Homo sapiens: one gene and its partner. The protein of the gene in region 2 interacts with the protein of the main gene of each other region in a pairwise test. Each region holds a gene or a part of one and is shown on either strand. Other genes may lie near its edges.

Evidence for each region. Proteins that work in one complex are often made in the same cells at the same time.
Region 1: the proteins of ZNF148 (region 2) and CEP63 interact in binary tests that used the Homo sapiens proteins (3 or more experiments, as listed by UniProt).

What each region holds. Positions count from the first base shown.
Region 1 is NC_000003.12:134,558,636-134,566,151, forward strand, and holds the end of CEP63 (centrosomal protein of 63 kDa), read left to right. Parts: intron 1-514; coding exon 515-794; intron 795-2,741; coding exon 2,742-2,900; 3' UTR 2,901-6,396; downstream 6,397-7,516. UniProt on the Homo sapiens protein: Required for normal spindle assembly.
Region 2 is NC_000003.12:125,308,528-125,316,568, reverse strand, and holds part of ZNF148 (zinc finger protein 148), read left to right. Parts: intron 1-1,515; exon of another isoform or gene 1,516-1,632; intron 1,633-2,912; 5' UTR 2,913-2,928; coding exon 2,929-3,261; intron 3,262-5,071; exon of another isoform or gene 5,072-5,706; intron 5,707-8,041. UniProt on the Homo sapiens protein: Involved in transcriptional regulation. Represses the transcription of a number of genes including gastrin, stromelysin and enolase. Binds to the G-rich box in the enhancer region of these genes.

The sequences.
Region 1 (7,516 bases), 9.2 Mb from region 2:
TGCCCATAAGAAGTAGAATTTGGCTTTTTATAAACAGCTTCCTTTGTCTTTTTAGTCAATTTGTTATAGGCTGTTACCGTAAGAAATAAGCATTCGGTGAAAAGCCACTTGGCTTCAGCTCATACTATATGGCTTACATGTTTTCCTACCCAAAGCCTTTGCTGACACCCTCACCTCCACTCCTACACCCACCCAATCCCCTAGTTAGGTTAGGTGCCTTCTTATGTGCACAGCACTTCTCCTGTCCCAGCACTAACCACACTAGATTACTCTGGCAGCTTGTTTGTCTTTCTTGCTATACCATAAGTGTGTGAGGGCAGGGACTTGGTAGTTGGAATTGGATATTTGGGGCCTGAATGAATGAAAGAAATCTCTTTCTGATCTGAGTAGGTTGCTCATTTTGTAAATTGTAGCCTTATTAGTTAGGCTATTAAGCAAATTTCCTACATTTCTGTTGGAAAGAGAAAAGTTGCTACAATTTTTTATTTGTTTTGTTTTCTAATCTACCATCCAGGCCAACCCATGGCCAGCACAGACATGATGGAATAAAGACTGAGCACTACAAAACAGATCTTCATTCTCCAAGAGGACAAGCGTCGGATAGTATAAACCCCATGTCTAGGGTGCTAAGCCCCCTGAGTCCTCAAATCAGCCCTTGCAGCTCCACCAGGTCTTTGACTTCCTACTCTCTATGTAAAACTCATTCTTTGCCTTCAGCGCTAGATACAAATGAAGCCAATTTTTCTGACACTATGTCTGAGAGTATGAATGACCAAGAAGAGTTTATATCTTCGGTATGGAAACTTTCTGATCTTAGTAATTTGTTAGTTTTTTAAGTTTGCTTTGATTTTTTATTTTAAGGGTGAAGAAGGTGATTTTTTTTTCCTTACTGATTCTTTTATCATAAGTACTCTTCATTATTCTTAGGTATCCCTGTCATACAGTTTTTGCTTGTGAAGACACTTTCGGCCAAGACTACTTTTCAAAATGTTCTGAAATATGTTATACGTATTCATTTGTCTTTAACCCTTATTGGAAATTCCCTTCTTGCCCTTTTCAGTGATGCTCAATTTTCTTCTGGAATGGTTAGTTCAAGAACTGTCTCTGGATGCCAAGATAGTCCTGAGGCACAGGCAGTGAAGGAGGAAAAGAGGAACTGCTGGAAAGGAGAAAGGGAGTGTGGAGGGGGAGGAAGGCTGTGCCTCTGATGTGTGCAGAGCATGGCTTGGGGGTCACAGATGGTGGCCCTCAGGGCAGAATGTGCCTTGGACACCATGCCGGTCCCTTGCTCCTTCCATTGCTGGGCAGGCTGCACCATCTTTTTGCCTTCTGCACCAAAGCACTTGCCATGGGCCCTTCATTTCCTGTCACCAGCTGTGGCCATATAGATGTGAAAGTGCAGTATTTCTGACTTATTAATGTGCTACCAAGTCCATGGAAAGGTTTTCTTTTATTTTTCAAAATAAGTCCTCACTTCACTTTCTTCCTAAGTTTAGCAGCAAAATTTTTTTGGCACCAGAACTTTCCCTGGCCTGAACTGATGTGTTAGTATGTATAGACTTTCTCTATTCCACTTAGTGTGAGTATCCATGTGTTTTGCTTCAGAAATATCAGTGTGTTTGGTGATGGGATGTTCCCTCAGACTCCACTGGGGTAATACAGTTGATCCTCATTATTCACAGATTTTGTATTTGTGAATTTGTCTACTCCCTAAACTTTATCTGTAACTCCCAAATCAGTATGCGCAGCACTTCCACAGTAATTCGTGGACATATGCAGAGTGACAAAAAATTTGAGTGACCGACTTGCACAATCCCAGCCAAGGTCGAAGTAGGCAGCACTCTGCCTTGTTGCCCCTGCTTATGCGGAGGTGACCATAGGGTGGAGATGGACGGGACAGCGCAGTGTAGGGAAAGAAGCTCAGCTCCATGCCAGCTGGATAGAGTCTGAATCCCAGCTTCAGCACCAGTTAGTGGGGCAGCCTCAGGAGAGTTACCACTTCTGAACCTCATGTCTCTCATGTGAAATAAAAAATACAGAATCTACCAGAATGATTTGTTCTAGGATTTAGGATTATGCTCTCTGTGTGGGGTATGTGTGTATGTGTGTGTGTGTGTATTTGTTGTATGTGTGTATTTTCCCTGGGCCAAAAATTCTGTGTTTGCTAATTCAGTGTTTTGGGTGACTTTATAGAACACAACTACTGCTATTGTGAATGAGTATTGACTGCATATGGCATATGTTCTATGTTACCTTTCTAAAATCAGAATTCTGAAATATCACTAGCCTCAAGGGTTTCAGATAAGGGACTGTGGACTGAAAATTTGGAGGAGAAAAAATAATTGATTTTAGCTGGCATCTAATTTATTTTTGTTAAATTTTTGTGCTTTAAAATAAAAGTGACATACTTAGGTTTTTAAAGTGAGTTTGAAATAATAGGCATTAACTATGGAAGCATATATAAGTCTAAATTGAAACATTCTTCAGACCAATAACTAATATATGATACTTTACATTGTTACAATTTGGGTCAGAAACGGAGAGATCTGTGTTAATTTTTGCAGAACTTACTGATTTTTGTTCTTTTATTGCTCTTGTCATTAGGATGAAAACCAAAAAAGTATCTTCAGAGGAAAAAAATCACCTTTTAATATTGCTAGTTAGAAAATGTCATGAACAGTGTATCTTAGAAATATAATATTCTACTTATTTACACATGTCAAAATTTGTGTCTCTTCCAGTGTTCCTTGCCTGTATCTCCCCTTGGTTCAATAGCTACCAGATTTTTGGAAGAGGAGGAACTGAGGTCTCATCACATTCTAGAGCGCTTGGATGCCCATATTGAAGAACTAAAAAGAGAGAGTGAAAAGACAGTGAGACAATTCACAGCCTTAAAGTAGCCTCTTAAAAAAATCACTATCTTGGAAATAAAAATAAACACCAAAGAGTTACTGTCATCTGAAGTAGCAGCTCTTTAAAAACATGAAGAGATAAAATTATAAAAATGATACATCTAAAGCAGTGGTGAAGAAAGCTGAAAAACTGATACTTTTGATAGGCATTTTCTCTGCACTGGTTTGTTTAAAGGACTTCTTCCAGCAATAAGTTGAAAGAATAAACCACTTTGCTAGACTTTTTTCTCATACGAATATTTATTATCATAAAGTGATACTTACCTTGCTGACTTAAATGTGAATAGCTATGTACTAATTGAAATAAGGATTTTATGATACATGTTGAAAATAAAGTAACTGCAGGAACTTTCTTTAGGGGAAATGTGTAGAAGCATGGATTTAGGGGTCAAACATACCTGGATCGATAGACTGGTTTTGCCACTTACCAGCCAACGGGGCTTGTTATTTACTGGGCTGGTAGCCCCTCCTAGCCAAGGGGCTGGTAGTGTGTAAAGTCAGGCTGGTAGTGAATAAGGGGGGGGTGTGCTAAAGAACCTTATCAAGCAGTCCTCTCTTGCTCAACACTCATGCAGAGGAGAGAGGCAGGGAGGGCAAGGGACTGGCTGTCATGCACGGTGCCCATGGAATATCCATTGGAAATAAATGTTCATCGTCTGCACTGCTGAGGACAAGTTTAGATGGGAGACAAAGATCTGGATGTTGATGTGCCGCAGGCATTTGAAACGATGGGAGTTGATAAGATCCACCAGGGAGGCTGTGGAGAGAGAGAGGAGCAGGAGGCTGGGTTTGGGGCCCTGAAAGATGCCAGCATCTGAGGATCACAGGAAATAGATCTAGCAAAGGAACTAGAATGTGCAGTTACAGATGAGAAAGGTCAGTGTAGTGTACTTGCCAGCTCAAGGGTGTGGCCTCTGTGAACCCTCTTTCTGTAGTGGATCTTTCCCATCAGCGTAAAACATCCTGTTATTTCCCCTTTTTAAATAAAACCTCAGTTTTTTTTAATGCCTCTCTTTTACTGCTCTGTATGTTTGCTTCCCTTCACCCAAACACTTCTGGAAAGAGTTGTCTGCAGTGACTCTTTCCAGTTCCTCACCCCGCCCCACCGTAGTTCTCTTCCTAACCCTCTCCAACACCACTTCCATCCCCAGACTGCTTTCTTGCTCTTGAGTTCACCAGTGACCTAATCAGTGTCTGAGCATCATTCAGCACAGTTGGACTCTCTCTTGGCTTCTGTGACCTGGAACTTCTGGTTTCCTCTCTACCTCATCCTCCACTCCATCTCATGGCTTTTCCTCTTCTAACCTCTAAGTCAGAGGGCCCCCTAGAGCTCTGTCATGGGTTTTCTCCCTCAGCATTCTCTTCCCTAGAAGTTTCCATTCCATTCTCAAGCTCTTAATACCACCTATAGGCCAGTGACCCTTACATTTATTACTAATCTTGACCTCTCCCCAGAGCTGCTGTCTTAGATACCTAGCTGCTTATGCGATGTCTTCACTTGGATATCTGACAAACATCTTGTTTCCAAGAGAGAACTCTTTATTCTCCCTCTTGCTAAGATTCCATATCAGGACATAGCATTATGTTTGCCAGTTCCTAGGAGTTACTTATAATTCCTTCCTTACCCACATCCGCATATCCAGTCATTTGGGAGGTCCTGTCATTTCTTCCCCCAGAATCTTATCTCAGACCCAACCGTTTCCCTCCTGCACTTCTACCACCTGATCCAGACTACTTCTCTCTCACCCTGATTCTGGCAGTAGCCTCCTAACTGATAGTACTCACACCAGTAATTCAGGGAGCTTCTGGAGTTATCCTTTAGAAATGTAAATGAAACAGTGTCACCACTGCTTCCCTTCAGACTCTTCCAAGGCTTCTCTTTTTTTTTTTATTGAGACAGAGTCTCACTCTGTCGCCCAAGCTGCAGTACAGTGGCAGGATCTCGGCTCTCTGCAACCTCCACCTCCCGGGCTCAAGTGATTCTCCTGCCTTAGCTTCCCGAGTAGCTGGGATTACAGGCGCATGCCACCAGGCCCAGCTAATTTTTGTATTTTTAGTAGGAACAGGGTTTCACCATGTTGGTCAGGCTGATCTCGAACTCCTGACCTCAAGTGATCCACCCGCCTGAGCTTCCCAAAGTGCTGGGTTATAAGCGTGAGCCACTGCACCCAGCCCCAAGGCTTCTTACTGCACTCAGAATAAAATCCAAATGAATTAGTATAGCCTACAGAGTGTCAATAATCTGGGCCTAATCACCCATTGCATCATCCTTTACTGTGCTCCACCCATGCTGGCGTCCTTTCTGTTTATTGAGTGCAGCAAGCTTTAACCTGTTCGGGTCTTTCATTTGCAGTTTACCCTGAATATTCCCTTTCTCTTACCTCACCTTTGATTGGCGTTTTCCCCCTTGCAGACCTGCACTCTGGCATCCTCTCCTGAGCAAGCCTTCTTTGATTGCTGCCTCCCAAACCTGTTTCTCCCCATTTCTCTAGCTCATTGGCCTGTGTTACTTGCTTCATAGTGCTCACTACTATCTGAAATCATTTCATTACTTGATTTATGTTTGTACTGTCTATTTCTGTCTTTAGAATTAAAACTCCTTGAGGGCAAGGACTTTGCTTCTCTGGTTCATGGTGGGATCCTCATCACCCAGCACAAGCCCAACACTTAGGAGAGGCTCAGCTAGTTTGAACCAATGGAAAATGCCATTCCTGAGGTGCACCACATCGTTTCTTTTGTGTTGGTGTGCATGCTGTCCTTCAGTTTGTCTCCTCTTCCCACACCCTGTCATGTGCTCCTAAAACTCCCCCTTTACTTGGCTACTTTATCTGGCTTGGCAAAGCTTTCCCATATCCCCTGACCCATGTCAGGGAACGTTTCTCCTCATTGCTGTCATGGCACCCTGTGTGTGGCTCTGACCAGACTTTGCTATCCGCTTTGATTTCTGTCTTTCAGGGGCTAAGTCCTGCCTACATCCTCAGTCAGCATGCTGCCTAACACATAACAGATCCTAAGCAAATATTGGGTGGATGAAAATCACTACCATTCAAGGCTTCATTGTATTTATCAGTAAAACTGAAATAATATCTAATGGGGTCGAGAAGATTTACTGAAAATATATATTTGAAAGGGCTTTGCAGTTTTAAGTACTGTACCTATGTGCATTGCTGTTACATTCAGGAGATTTCTGAGTTTTAGACAGTCCCAAGCTTCAGCTTAAAATCTGTAGACTGCAGCCCGTTTCTGAAACGTTTGTACTACGTGTTGACTAGGAGGAACAATGACAGACTCTGTAGTCACCGGAAATACTTAAGGAATCATGAGGTACTATGTATTTCCTTAAATTATACTGTTTTTTAAAGCTGAAGTATCTAATAGTTAATGGGTTGTCCAAATTTGTCAGAACATTTGACTGTAATTTAATGTCTCACCATTTTTCAAAAAGATATATTAATACCAAATATTAAAATGTGTCAAGACTAAATCTGAGTTAGTGTCTTAACACACATTTTCCAAAATCTGTCCGTGATCAGGGTACCCAAATGAGATGAAAAGATTAGGGATTTGTAGTCTACATCTGGTGTTTACAGATAATGTTTTATTGGGCAAGTCATCTCATTCTTCTTGTCCTGGATTCCCATGAATTTTCATCTGGATTCCTACGCAGATTTTAGCTGAAGAGGGCAAAGTTGACTTCCCACTGTGGGCTGGACATTACCTTCCCTTGCAGACTCATTTGATCTCAACAAGTGTAGAAAAAATACTACAACACTCTGTTTCTGTGACATCTGCTTAAACCCAAACAATTCTTACCTTCTCTCTCTTACATACACATAACACCTGGTAAACTGTGGGTGATGATTTTCTGTTTGCAAAACACTCGAGTCCAGTACCTAAAAGTTGCAGATAAGAAAGATAATTATAAAATAAGCTCTATGGCATGAGAACATACGTTAAGCAAACAGTTGTCATGAACAGCACTGAAATGTAGAAAAAGTTAGAAATGTGTCAGCTTGTCCCAAAACAGTTTGAAATAGTATAAATGCATCAAAAAGTAACAAACAGAATCGGGGCAGAGGGAAAATGAGGGCTGTAAACATTGATTCACTAATGAATCTAGTTGTCCAGTCCAGTTGCTAGAGGAAGGCAGCCAAGTTACCTCTGAGCTTCAGAGGGGGAAAAGCAGAGGAGAAAACATTTACCTAAAAGTTTTATGGTGCCCATAAGATAAAAAAAAAAAAAAATCATAGACTTAAGAAAAGCACAGATTTTTTTTGTGTGTTTGAATAAGCGTTTTGTAAAGTATGTGAGTATCCAGAAGAGAAGTCCAACATTTTCATAACTGGTAATAATAATCTGCACAGCTCCCCCCACAGTATGCTTCACTGTGGGTTGATGGCATAAGGCTGACATCCAAATTCAGAGGAAACTGTTCTGAGAGGGCCACAAACATGATTGCGTAAAGCTCTCATGGCCTGAAAAGGGAAAATTTAGAGGGATGATAGACTGCTTTAAACCAATCTTTTGTAAAAGCTATTTCTCCGCAGTGCAATTTTGATAATTCAGACATACAATTCACATCTTTTTTTTTTTCCCTCTCTGTG
Region 2 (8,041 bases):
TGCAATGAGATGTCATCTCACTCCAGTTAAAATGGCTTATATCCAAAAGACAGGCAATTACCAATGCTGGTGAGGATGTGGAGAAAAGGGAACCCTTCTATGCTGTTGGTGGGAATGTAAATTAGTACAACCACTGTGGAGAAAAGTTTGGTGGTTCCTCAAAAAACTAAAAATTGAGCTAGCATACAATCTAGCAATCGCACTGCTGGGTATATTTCCCCTAAAAAGGAAATCAGTATATTAAAAGATAGTTGCACTCCTGTATTTGTTGCAGCACTGTTTACAATAGCTAAGACTTGGAAGCCACCTAAGTGTCTGTGAACAGATGAGTGGATAAAGAAAATGTACATATGCACAATGGAGTAGTATTCAGCCATAAAGAAAGAATGAGATCCAGTCATTTGCAACAACACGGGTGAAACTGGAGATCATTATGTTAAATGAAATAAGCCAGGCACAGAAAGACAAATGCATGTTCTCATTTATTTGTGGGATCTAAAAATCAAAACAGTTGAACTCATGGATATAGAGAGTAAAAGGGGATAGTTACTAGAGGCTGAGAAGGGGAAGGTGGGGATAGTTAATGGGCACACACAAAAAAATAGAAAAAATGAATAAGACCTACTATTTGATAGCACAATAGGATGACTATAGTCAATAACAACTTGATTGTGCATTTAAAAATAAAGAGTGTAATTGGGTTGTTTGTAGCTCAAAGGGTAAATTATTGAGGGGATGGATACCCCATTCTCCATGATTTGCTTATTTCACGTTGCGTGCTTGTATCAAAATATCTCATGTACCCCATAAATGTATATACTTATGTATATATTTACTCCCTCCATTTTTTTTTTTTTTTTTGAGATGGAGTCCTGCTCTGTCACCAGGTTGGAGTGCAGTGGCTCGATCTCGGCTCACTGCACCCTTCCCCTCCTGGGTTCAAATGATTGTCCTGCCTCAGCCTCCTGAGTAGCTGGGACTACAGGCATGCACCATCATGCCCAGCTAATTTTTTTGTATTTTTAGTAGAGACAGGGTTTCACCATGTTGGCCAGGATGGTCTCGATCTCCTGACCTGCTGATCTGCCCGCCTCGGCCTCCCAAAGTGTTGGGATGACAGACGTGAGCCACTGCACCCGGCCAATGTTTTATATATTTAAAACATAAAAATATAGTTATTTTATATATTTAATGGTTGTTTCTAAGTTTTCTTTAGTGATTTGTCTGATAGTGTTCCTGTCAGTTTATTGATCTCTTCTAATTTTTAAGGTATTTTAATATATTAAGGATATGGAGTTTTTGACTGATGTTACAAATACTTTTCACCAGTTGATTCTTAAGGATTTCCAAATAAATGGACAGAATAATGAAATTTTAGCATTAAGAGACTTGTTTCATTTAGTTTTAGTTTGTTTTCTAAGAAATGTGATAAATGAAATTTTTGAAGAGAGCAGCTATTTGGTGATGTATGTAACATCTTTGACCTTTATTTTTATTTGTTTATTTTTGAGACAGGGTCTTATTCTGTCACCTAGGTGGAGTGCAGTAGTACAGTCACAGCTCACTGCAGCCCCAACATCCTGGGCTCAAGCCATCCTCCTGCCTCAGCCTCCCAAGTAGCTGGGACCACAGGTGCGTGCCACCATGCCCAGCTCATTATTGTATTTTTATTTTGTAGAGATGGGGTTTTGCCTTGTTGCCCTAGCTGGTCTCAAACCCCTGGGCTCAAGCGATACGCCCGCCTCGGCCTCCTAGAGTGTTGGAATTACAGGCGTGAGCTACCATACCCAGCAATCTTTGACCTTTAGATTTTAACTTTACTACCTAAAGATTTTGAAAAGTGAAATCAGATGTTTTGTACAGATATACTGTATATATTCTAGGTTGATAATACCTGGTACCAGGGAAGAAAGATTAGCAAGTTATGAATTACACATTTGTGTATTTTGCTGTTTATAAGGTTTTTTTGAGCTGTTCATTTCAGTAAAGTTTTCTCTGTTAATGATAACCTTAGTAAAGGAAAGAGTATTTTGATTTCAGTAGTGTGTTGGAATTTAACTTAGGTATTTGACTGCTGAAAACTATGATCAAAGTTGGTCATTACTTAGGTGATTAATTTGGGAAAGAAGTGACTAAACTGAAATATACTTAACATTTTCGTTATGGTATTGACTACTGTAGTGATTTTCTGTGTCTACCTTTGTTTACATTTTTTATTTCATCAAGATAAATTCCAAAATGTAGAATTCCTTGTTCAAAGAATATGTACATTTTTATAGCTTTTGATACGTTTCATAGCATTTGATACCAAATGGCTTTTGAAAATAGTTGATCTAATACATACTTTTATTATCAGTAGATGAGTGTCTTTTTTTAATACTTCAACATTGGATGTATTTTTTAAGAGTCATTATCAGTTTGGTAGATGAAATATGATAGTGCTGTTTAATGGTAATTTCTTGGATTACTGCTGAGACTCTTTTTTATATGCTTAATGACTATTTCTAAATTTTTAAAAATGATTTGCTTGATGATGTTCTGTCAGTTTATTCCTTACTGAATTCATCTCTATTTTTAACACATTTCAATATATTATTAATATATTAAAGAATATGGATCCCTTGACTGATGTTACAAATACTTTTCCCTAATTTGTTTTTATGTCAGGCTTATTTTTCAATAATAAAGTAGTTAGGATTTGATGCCTTTATATGAAAATGAAAATTTGTGTTTTATTCTACCAGCCTTTGGAAACCGATATTGGTATTATAATTTTAAAATTGGAGGCAGTTCCAAAGTACATCAATAAAATCTTTGTATTTGAATGTTCAAATTCTTAATTTGAAAATTTAAAATGAAGTAGTCATATAAAACTAATTTACTATGTTTTGTTGCCAAACTTGGTTTTCTAGGCAGTTATACTTAAGCATGAACATTGACGACAAACTGGAAGGATTGTTTCTTAAATGTGGCGGCATAGACGAAATGCAGTCTTCCAGGACAATGGTTGTAATGGGTGGAGTGTCTGGCCAGTCTACTGTGTCTGGAGAGCTACAGGATTCAGTACTTCAAGATCGAAGTATGCCTCACCAGGAGATCCTTGCTGCAGATGAAGTGTTACAAGAAAGTGAAATGAGACAACAGGATATGATATCACATGATGAACTCATGGTCCATGAGGAGACAGTGAAAAATGATGAAGAGCAGATGGAAACACATGAAAGACTTCCTCAAGGACTACAGTATGCACTTAATGTCCCTGTAAGTAATTCCTTTATAAGATATTAAACTTAGAAACATAATTTTTTGTTACGTAATACTGCAAGTCATCGAAGAAATTTCAGAAAATGTTTCAGGGCTAAATAGTGTTCTTGAATAGATATACTAAAATATTGACATAAATCATATTTGAAAGGCAAAATTAAGTTCTTGTATTATATTATTTTAGAAGCTTATTTCTTTCAGGATAACAATATTTCTCAGGATTATTTTGGTATTAAATTTTAAATGCTTAATTTTAAAAGATATTTTATCTAACTTCTAGGTTTCTCCTTAAAGAGTAAAACATTTGAATCTTCAACGTAACTAGAAAAATATCACACATTCAAGGGTTTTTCCTACAAATTCTGTAATTCTTGCCTTCTTAAATTTTTCTAATATGCTCCTATTCTCTGTTCTCTTTGTATCCTCCGCTTGCTTGATCTGTTTATCTTTTTAAAGTATATCAGCCCTTTACTCTTTCCTATCTACCTCAGACGTCATTTAAGATGTTTCATAAGCACCCATATGTTTTTCCTTCTTCTACCTTTATTTTTACCCAATAATCAGTGAAACCACAACCATCATGTAAATTCTTGTCTCTTCTTTCTATGATATCAAACCTGGGTTCCTTTCAGTTCATCTAACATGTACTTTTTCTTTTGCTTTAGGACTTTAATATATCCTGCTTGAGATATTACCCTCAGTCATACTTCATACCTGTTTTATAACCTCTAGATAGTGCTCCATCATCATCAGCCTGTCACTTCTCTTGACTCTAGGTTGAGTCCCTGTGATAGGGACTTGTGATTTACTTGTACGATGCTTCTCTGATGGATTGTAGACTCCATAAGGACAGGAGTTTTGTCTTACTTTTCACTGTAGTCCAGGTGTTGGCACATGGTGTGAATGAGCGGATAACTACTTGTAGTTGTGCTCTGATACATACATTCACCAGCTTTACCTAGCCCATTGCAGTAACTTTTTCCTCTTTAGCCTGATGATGTAATGGATTACATTAGTTGATTTTTGAATATGGAAGCAACTTTCATACCTGGAATAAATCCTGCTTGTTTGTGGTATATAGTTCTTTTTAGATGTGGTTGGATTTGATTTGATCATATTTTGAGGATTTTTACATTTGTGTTCATGAGAAATATTAGTCTATAGTTTTCTTGATGTCTTTGTCTGTTTTTGGTATTAGGGTAATGCTGGTCTCATAGAATAAATTAGCAAGTATTCCCTCTGCTTATATCTTCTGGAAGAGATTGTAGAGAACTGATGTAATTTCTTCCTTAAATGTTTGGTAGAATTCACCAGTGAACTGCTTTGGGTCTGGTGCTTTCTGTTTTGGAAAGTTATTGTTGATTTGATTTCTCCTATAAATATAGGTCTCTTCAGATTATCTGATTCTTCTTGTGTGAGTTTTGACAGATTGTGTCTTCCAAGGAATTGGTCTATTTTGATAAAGTTGTCAAATTTGTGGGAACAAAGTTCATAGTATTGTTTTATTATCCTTTTAATGTCCAGGGGTTTATAGTGATGTCCTCTCTTTGATTTCTGATATTAGTAATTTGTGTTTTCTCTTTTTTTCTTTTTTTCTTGTCTTAAGACAGTAATTTAAAAAAATTACTGTCTTAACAATTCCCTTTTTTTTGGTGTATCATTTACTAAGTTAAATTATATAGGGTTTTTTGGGGTCTGTAATTGATGTACATTTGATTTTAAAAAGACACTGTCTTATATCAGGACAAAGCAGATTTACATACAACTATCAGCAGAAAAAATTTCTGTGTGATCTGAACAGAGGTACTCTTTTCTTTGATCATAAGAAAATGCAGTACTTTTAGAAGGTAAAGCTATTAAGATTACAGAAGTTTTACCAAAATGCTTTAAGCAAAAACTCTTTTAAGAAAAAGGTATGAGTTCTCATTTTCTATTCTTAGCATAAATTTTAATACTTTCTAATAGAACCTAACTCTTCTGAATGCCTTTCAGCATCATCCAAAGCTTGAACTTCTATTTCTGGATTAAAAATTCATTCACAAATGAGCTGTGCAATACGATCACTTTTTCTGACTTTAAACTTTTTTTTGCCAAAATTAAACAGTACAGCACCAACATTTCCTCAGTAATCTTCATCTATCAATAAAGTGTTTTGCAGCTAATCCAAACCATGGAGCTACTCTTCTGTAACATCCAGAAGGAAGAGCTATCTGAATGTCCATTTTCCCTAGAGCTTTCTCCATAGGTGGTATTGTATCATCATAGGCACCGTTGAGGTCATAGCCTGTGGCCTGTGTGGATCCCTGAGTCAGGGTTGTGGCCTGCTCAGAGAATGGGGCAAAACGGAGCTGCATGCTGCCTTCCTCTGCAAACCAGCCTGTTTGCTGGGGGTAACGGTGGGTGTCTCTTCAGAGCAGGGCATGGCAGAGTGAAAATGCGAGCAGAGGAGAGAGCAACAATTTTTAAGTGTCCATTTTAGTAGTGCAAACTATATTGACATTGTTGTACAACAGATCTCTAGAACTTTTTCATCTTGCAAAACTGAAACTGAAACTCATGTTCGAACAACTCTGCATTTCCCCCTGCCCAGTGGTAGAGGCTTGCTTATTTTATTGATATTTTCAAAGAAACAGCTTTTGATTTTCTTGATTTTTTTCCCTCTATTTCCTATTTTCAGTTTCATTTATTTCTGCTCTAATTTTTATAATTTTTTTCTGCTTGTTTCGGATTTAATTTGCTCTTCTTTTTCTACTTTCCTAAAGTGGAAGCGTATTCATTTTAGATTTTTTGTTTCTAATATATGCATTCATACTATAAATTTTCCTCTAAGCACTGCATTAGCTACATTGCATAGATTTTGATAGTTGTATTTTTATTTTCATTTAGTTCAATATATTTTAAAATTTCTGTTAAGATTTCTTCTTTGGACTGGGTGTGGTGCCTCACGCCTATAATCTCAGCACTTTGGGAGGCTAAAGTGGCGGATTACTTGAGCTCAGGAGTTTGAGACTAGCTTGGGCAACATGACAAAACCCCATCTCTACTAAAAATACAAAAATTAGCCGGGCATGGTGGCATGCACCTGTAATCCCAGCTATGTGGGAGGCTGAGGCATAAGAATCACTTGAACTCCAGAGGCAGAGGTTGCAGTGAGCCAAGATTGTGCCACTGCACTCCAGCCTGGGTGACAGAGTGAAACTCTGTCTTTAAAAAAAAAAAAAAAAAAAAAAATTCTTTGAACCATTATTGTTTAGAAGTGTGTTGTTTAATATCCAAGTATTTTGAGATATTTTCTAGCTACCATTCTGTTATTAGTTGTAGTTTAATTCTGTTGTGGTCTTAGAGCAGACGCCATATGATTGCTATTCTCTTAAGTTTGTTAGATTGTATTTTATGGCCCAGAATGTTGTCCACCTTGGTGAAATGTTACGTGCGAGCTTGAAAAGAATGTGCATTCTGTTTTTGTTGGATGAGGTAGTCTATAGATTGCAATAGACTGGCATTTTTATTGGACTGACAGTAGCCTGCGCCTTCTCCAGTGTATCTTTCAGATAGTTTCTACAGTGATCTTTCCAAACGAGATGTATACATGTCATTCCCTTACTGAAACTTCCCCAGTGGTTCCTCATTACTAAACAGCTAAAATGTACTTTTTTGCATGGGCGGAAATAGCCGTCATAATCCCGTCCCTTATCCAACTTTTTTTTTTAACTGTAGTTCAGCCCCTTTCGCCACCATTTTATGCTTTAAGCATATCAAATTAATTTAGTTGCCTAGGTCCACTATGGGTTTTTTCTGTTACTTTTGTTCATGTCGTATATGCCTATAATATTATTTATTTGGCAATTTACTGTTACTCATGTTTCACCTTAAAAGATGTCTCTTTCTTGTGATTTTTCATTATGGTAACTATAATAACTTTGCATTTCTTTGCTTGCAAGACTGTCTTGTCATTATATTTTAAGGTATTTTTTTCTGTATCCTGCCTTTAAATTTTGTGTTCTCAATACCTGGGTTATAGTAGGCAATCAGATTTTTTTTGAGTGAAAATATACATTCTGTTTTTAATTGAGGAAAAGTTTAAAGTGAAATGTTCAGATTCTGAGTTTGTAGTTCAGAGTTTTGACAACTGCATAAACTTGTATAATCCATAATCCATCAAGATACCAAATGTTTTAGTAATCCTGGGAAGTTTTTTTGTAATTCTTCCCAGTCAATTCCTCCACAACAGTTGTTCTGATATTTTTTCTTCATAGATTGTCATTGTCCTTGATGAGAACCTCATGTAAATGGAGTTACATGTAACTCTTGTGTCTGGCTGCTTTTGCACAACATGTTTTGGGATTCATCCATGTTGGTTGAATGTATCAACAGTTCATTCTTTTTCCCTATTGATTAATGTTTAGTCATTTTAATTAATATCAAAATTTGTTTATTCATCCTCCTTTTTGTGGTTACTTGTGTTGTCTCTTGCTTTCAATTACTATGAATAAAGTGGTTAGGAAAATTGTTGTACAAGTCTTTTTTCATTTCTCTTGGTACGTGTTTGTGTAAGTCTTATTTCTTGTGGGTTTTCATTGATGGACCTAGTGTCTGTCTTTAAATCAGTGTCACACTGTTTTGATTGCTGTATCTTTTATAGTAAATCTTGAAATCAAATTGTGTATGTCCTCCAATTTTGTTGTTCTTTTGTAATACTGTAGTGACTATGTTAGGTCCTTTGCATTTTCATATAAAGTATGGAATCCACCTTTTAGGTTTTTGTTTTTTTTTTTTT